2 linked regions of the Homo sapiens genome follow. The protein of the gene in region 1 purifies or fractionates together with the protein of each later gene. This does not show direct contact. Each region holds a gene or a part of one and is shown on either strand. Other genes may lie near its edges.

Region 1 (3,500 bases):
ATAGGCTGCTTAACAAATCCCCTTCACTAAGAATGATTTTTGTCCCAACCTTGTCTGACTTTGGCCTTATCCTAGAAGCCAATATTTATGCCATTACAGGTAAAATCTCCTGTTTCCTCCCTCAGCCAATAGCAAAAATAACAAAATGACTCAGCAGCTTCGTCTCTGCAAGAATGGAGTGGCAGATGTCCAGGGAAAGGTGCATTTGAGGGAATATTTTCTTTGTCTCAATTTATTCATGGTAGTTGGGGCTTTTCTTTTGCATTTCTTTCTTTTTTCTTCTCTTCCATTTGTTATTGTTCTTACAAGAAAGAGCTTTACTCATGGGTGGGTGCCTCATTTCTGTCCACTCCAAAAGGGAAGAAAGAAACTGGCAAATTGGAAAAAAGATGATGATGATGTGGGAGGTGAGGGAGTAGTCACATAGAATTGCAGTCACATAGAATTGCTTGTGGGCAGGCAAACAGTTGGCTTTCCTCCTCATCTGGAGGAGGGTCTGGGCAAATTTTCTGGACACTAGTGCCCTAAGTTAAGTGGAACATGTGGTTTTAGGTTCCTACTTCCCAGAAAAGAGCAGAGGAGGCATAGAAACCCTTTTGAGATGGGTGCTATTAGGAGCCTGAGGCTACATTTTACCCCTCCTTCAGAGTCTTCTTCGGATACCAGGATTTAACATCTACGGCCCTCTCCCCCCAACTAAAACCTTTTTGGTGGAAATGATCCCAGCTAGACATCTTAACCTCCAAAGGAATATAGATTAAAGACTGGGAATTTGGGGCCAGGCACAGTAGATTGCACCTGTAATCCCAGCACTTTGGGAGGCCAAAGTGGGAAGGTCACTTAAGGCCAGGAGTTCAAGACTAGCTTGGTCAGCATAGCAAGACCCCATCTCTACAAAAAAAGTGTTTTTTAAATTTAGCCAGATGTGATGGCTCCTGCTTGTAGTCCTAGCTACCCAGGAGGCTAAGACAGGAAAATTCCTTGAGCCCAGAAGGGATGCAGTGAGCTCTTGAGGCTGCAGTGAGCTGTGATCATACCATTGCCCTCCAGTCTGGATGACACAGAGAGACATTGTCAAAAAAAAAAAAAAAAAAAAAAAAAAAAGGACTGGGAATTTTGAAACTGGAAATGATTTTATAAATCTTGTCTGTCCTCTCTCAGGGCCATTTGTGTCCTAAGCCCTACTCTTTCATGGTGAACAGAGCTATGAAAGGGACAAAAATTATAGACTTTGGAGTTAGACTTACTTGGATTGAAATCCCATCCTTTACAGGCCAGCTATGCCCTTATGCAAGTATTTTAACCTTTTGAAATAATATCAGTGTCCTTGTAAATTAGATATAATAATGCTTCTCTTGAAAGGTTGTTTTGAGCTTTAGAAACAATAGTTGTCAAAAGTCTTGCACAGTATAGCTGGCACAGTATATATAGATGCTTAATTGACAACGCGGCATGAAACACTGTTTCTGCTAAAGGGATATTAGAATATGGAGAACAGGTCAGAGGGAAAATTTGGAGAGCTCTTCCTGTACCTAAAGTTACATTTCTGAGGGCTTTTTACAGTTACTCTGATTAATTTGATGAAAATATTGAAACAAACAGCATAGCCATGTATTTGTAAATTCTTTTTTTGGTACCTAGGTCCCGAACCTCCTAGGCTCTGAGGGAATTGTATTTATGGAGAAAGCCGAGAATATTTTTCCTTAGCTTCTAGAACCTTCTAATGACATTGAAGGTTTTTTTGTTCAGGTTTTTTCTAACCACCTCAGGCACTCTGCCACTTTTTTGAAGTGTGAATTGCCTGCTGTCAGCCTGGAGTTCTCACCTCCGCAATCCTGGCTGCAGGCATATTTGCATATTGGATGCTGTGTTCCTTAACCCCCTGAGGTTTGAATCCACTTGGAGTCTGTGTGTGAAAGCTGGCTACTTTCAAACCCATGAACAGTTTCAGCTTTGTGGTCTCCAGAAAAACAGAAAACCCCCAACAATAGTTCCATTCACTTTTATGTAAATGGCACTCTTCAGGAAAACACTGGGCTATTTCCCAGGGCCCCAGAACATACTCAAACATTTGTTTGAGTGGGAGGTGGGGAGAGAGTTCTTTTGAGTCAATGAACATCTGTTCAGAACTGCTGTGCTGGGTCCCAAGAAAACAGAGCTTATAATCTGTCTCTTCCCTGCCAGAGGTACCAGCAGAGATTTACTATACTAGGTATATGTGCTTGTGGTGGCATTGTACTGTGTCAGTTTAGCTAAGCTGGATTCCCAGTATCCTTCCTATCTGCTTCCAGGTGAGGGTTGTCCACAAGAAAATTTCGTGAGAGATTTGGAAAGCTGAATTGAAGTAGCAGCCAGTACACTGTGAAGGACAGAGCAGGGTCTGTACGCTGTGAAGGACAGAGCAGGGTACCAGGCATAGTGGCAGTACCTGTACTTTCTCTCTGATCTGGCTCACCTTGTTGGTGAAGGTCATCACACAGCCCCCAGCACCCCTAGCTCCTACTGAATTTCCTCCTTCAGCTCCTCTGAGTCCTGGGCCATGTGTGCAGTCAGCTCTGTAGCAGAGGGCTCCGGCTTCTCCAGATCACCTGAGTCACTGAGCTTGGGACCAGTGAAAGGAAGTTGTGGGTTTCAGTTTGTCCTCATGAGTTCCAGTTGTCCTTGTAGATCCCAGTTTGTTCTCAGAGGTTCCAGTTTGTCTTTGTTCTCTTCCACCTCACATCCAGTTTTCTTCCCAACTGCTGGCCTCACAGACTTCGGGCCCAACACCAGGTGCAGAGGCAGCAGAGTTGCATGGATTTATCCACCAACTTCCAAAGATACACAGTGTCTACTCCTTATAATAAATCTTTAGTTTTCTGTCACTCATAGCGTTTGCTTCCCTGATTGAACTTTAAATTTGTTCAAGCCGTGTTAAGGATGCAGAGCATGGAAGTGATTAGAAGCCAGAAAGCTTCACAGAGGAGGTGACATCTGAGCTGCTTCTGACGAGTAGGAGGTTGTGTGTATAGAGTGGGTAGGAGGAATTCTAGAGAATAGCTGGCTCAAGCCAAGCAATTGAAAGAGCAGTGAGGAGTTCTGTATTTCTAGAAGAACTGTTCTTTCCATGGGTCCAGAATATAGATGGAGAATGAGCATCTGATCCTAGCTCTTCTGGCGCCATTGAGATTAACTGTTAGCTGATGTGGTTCTTAGATGTGGTCATCCCTAATACACTGGCATCCACTGAAATACATTCTTGCTAGGGTACACCCTTGTCACTACCCTAAGATTCCTCCCCCACCCCACCGCTGCTTTCCTCTCCCCAGTGGTTCCATGTGGCTAACCCAGGCTTGTCTTTCTTGGCTCCCCATGCAGGCATCTTTGCTTGTCCATGTTGTGTTGATGGTGGCAGTGGTATGGAGTTCCTGTCTTAGGCAGGGCACTGTGCCCTCTAGTCTTGGATCCCTAAGCTTATTTAGGGGTTCTAACATTGATTCCATGGGACCTTCTAGTCTTGG
Region 2 (2,831 bases), on another chromosome or scaffold:
CAAAGAAATTAGCTGGGCATGGTGGCATGCACTTGTAGTTCAGCTAAGGTGGGAGGATCACTTGAGCCCAGGAGGTGGAGGCTGCAATGAGCTGAGATAGTGCCTCTGCACTCCAGCCTGCGTGACAAAGTGAGACCCTCTCTCAAAAAAAAAAAAAAGAACCTCCCATAAAGATTTATTGACAATAAACATTTCTATTATATACCACACACTGTGTCTACATATTAGGAATATAAGAACAAATTTTCTCTTATATTTACCCTGAAGAAAACTATTCCTAGTCTCAATATTAAGAATGAAAGGAGGGAGAATAAAAGAACGATAAGTATATTTTTGCAGGATAGATCTCACCATTGATTAGGGATAACATAATAGATATATTTTACAAAAATATTTATACAGTAATATATTTATATCAAATGTGACTTATGTTTAATTTGTGAAAAATCCTCACTTTCTGGAATGGTGTTAATTATACTATAAAAGAATGCCAATTTTTTTTTCTTTCACTACAACTTGAAGCCTATGGGATTTAAGTTAAAGTTGGACAAAAATGACAAGAAATAGTACAATACAAAAATACTGACTCTTGCTTCCATAGTGGTATGAGATATTAAGTCATATACACATCTAAATGTAGTAACAGAGGAATAATATGAGAGCCCTTCTAGTGTCTTGAGTACCTGGTTCTTCTCCTCGTATTCTTTGATTTTGAACAATCTCCAGAAGCTGCTGGGCTGCTTGGTTTACACTCATATACCGTGGAGGTTCATAGATCTTCCTTCCCCTATAGGCAGAAAACTAGATGCCACTGTTCTTAGCCATGAAACTACATAATATGTTATTAATGCAATTAGCTCTCCCAGGTATACTCAAGTACCACAGTCTACATTCTGTTTGATGTTTTTTTACATGTACTCACTTTAAGCATACACAAAAGCATGATGATTGTTCATTTCTTAAGCTTTTTCATTGTTCTAATTTAACTTTCCTCTGATCTCACTGAAATGATGGCAGGAACACATAAAGATAGATGTCTAAATGAAAGTTATCTTTATTCAAAGTGATACCTTTGGTAAAAACAATTCAAAGTAAGTGGCAATTTGGTCTATACTCTAGCTTAATCAGGTTATTTAGTGTCCTTTTTATGACCATTTTTAAACCACATATTCTTTTCACTGTTTCCTCTAAGAAAAGTAAACTAAAGCATCTTGGATGCTTAAAAATCTCAGGTGATGGCATACGTTTATTTCTGTATGCCTCAAAAGCCTATCAGGCTTGCCGAACTATCATATTAACAAAAATATAGCCATTGCAGGCCAGGCGTGGTGGCTCATGCCTGTAATCCCAGCACTTTGGGAGGCAGAGGCGGGTGGATCACAAAGTCAGGAGTTTGAGACCAGCCTGACCAACATGGTGAAACTCCGTCTCTACTAAAAATAAAAAAAATTAGCGTGGCTTGGTGGCGCACGCCTGTAATCCCAGCTACTCAGAAGACTGAGACAGGAGAATCAATTGAACCCGGGAGACGGAGGTTGCAGCGAGCTGAGATGACACCACTGCACTCCAGCCTGGGCGACAGAGCAAGACTCTGTCGAAAATATAAATATATATATATATATATATATATATATATATATATATAGCTATTGTGGCTTACAACACAGTTCAAATAGATTATTTTACTGACTCTCAAAAAAATTCTGTCAGTGCTATCCAATAGAAATATAAATGAAGCCATATATAGAATCAAGTTTTCTAGTAGCCATATTAACAAAAAAGTTTGTAAAAAGGCAATTTTTTTTTTTAAGACAGTCTCACTCTGTTGCCCAGGCTGCAGTACAGTGGCGTGATATTGGTTCACTGCAACCTCTGCCTCCTGGGTTCAAGCAATTCTCTGCCTCAGCCTCCCGAGTAGCTGGGATTACAGGTGCCTGCCACCATGCCTGGCTAATTTTTTTTGTATTTTTAGTACAGACGGGGTTTCACCATCTTGGCCAGGCTGGTCTCGAACTGCTGACCTCGTGATCCACCTGCCTCGGCCTCCCAAAGTACTGGGATTACAGGCATGAGCCACCACGCCCAGCCAAAAAAGGCAAAAATTTTAATATTTTAATTAATCCAAAATGTTGTAATTTAACACCTACTCATATAAAAATTATTAAAGAGATTGTTTTTATATTAAGTCTTTGAAATCTGATATGTTCTTACAGCACACCTTAATTTGGATATTAAATTTTCATTGGAAATAGTTGATCTGTATTTAACTTTCATAAAATTTATGGTTTTAACAGTTGATTTATATACTAAAGCTGTTCCAAACATACTTAAAAGTTTTCCAATAACAGAGTATCATTTTTTAATTAATTAAAATTAAATGAAAAATTCAGTTCCTCAGTCACATTAGCCACATTTCAAATGCTCCTTAGTCACAAGTGGGTAGGGGGTACTGTATTAGACACTGCCTCTCTAAGTAAAAAAGGATTAGTACTATCATTATACATCTGAAGAAAATAAGGCTCAGAGATGGAAGTAACTTGCCCAAGAGCACTCAACTAGAGGCAGACTCAGGACTCAAACCCATGCCTTTTTTTTTTTTTTCTCACTCTGTTACCCAGGCTGGAGTGCAGTGGCGTGATCTCAGCTCACTGCAACCTCTGCCTCCCAGATTCAAGCGATTCTCGTGCCTCAACCTCCCAAGTAGCTGAGATTAAAGGCACGTGCCACCACACCCAGCTAATTTTTCCATTTTTAGTAGAGACGTGGTTTCACCATGTTGGCCAGGCTGGTTTTGAACTCCTGGCCTCAAACAATCCACCTGCCTCAGCCTC

Evidence for each region. Proteins that work in one complex are often made in the same cells at the same time.
Region 2: the proteins of NUDT2 (region 1) and DPH5 fractionate together in Homo sapiens (co-fractionation; one large-scale study listed by BioGRID). This does not show direct contact.

What each region holds. Positions count from the first base shown.
Region 1 is NC_000009.12:34,332,569-34,336,068, forward strand, and holds part of NUDT2 (bis(5'-nucleosyl)-tetraphosphatase [asymmetrical]), read left to right. Parts: exon of another isoform or gene 1-1,103; intron 1,104-3,500. UniProt on the Homo sapiens protein: Catalyzes the asymmetric hydrolysis of diadenosine 5',5'''-P1,P4-tetraphosphate (Ap4A) to yield AMP and ATP. Exhibits decapping activity towards FAD-capped RNAs and dpCoA-capped RNAs in vitro.
Region 2 is NC_000001.11:100,991,954-100,994,784, forward strand, and holds part of DPH5 (diphthine methyl ester synthase), read right to left. Parts: intron 788-2,831; coding exon 684-787; intron 1-683. UniProt on the Homo sapiens protein: S-adenosyl-L-methionine-dependent methyltransferase that catalyzes four methylations of the modified target histidine residue in translation elongation factor 2 (EF-2), to form an intermediate called diphthine methyl ester.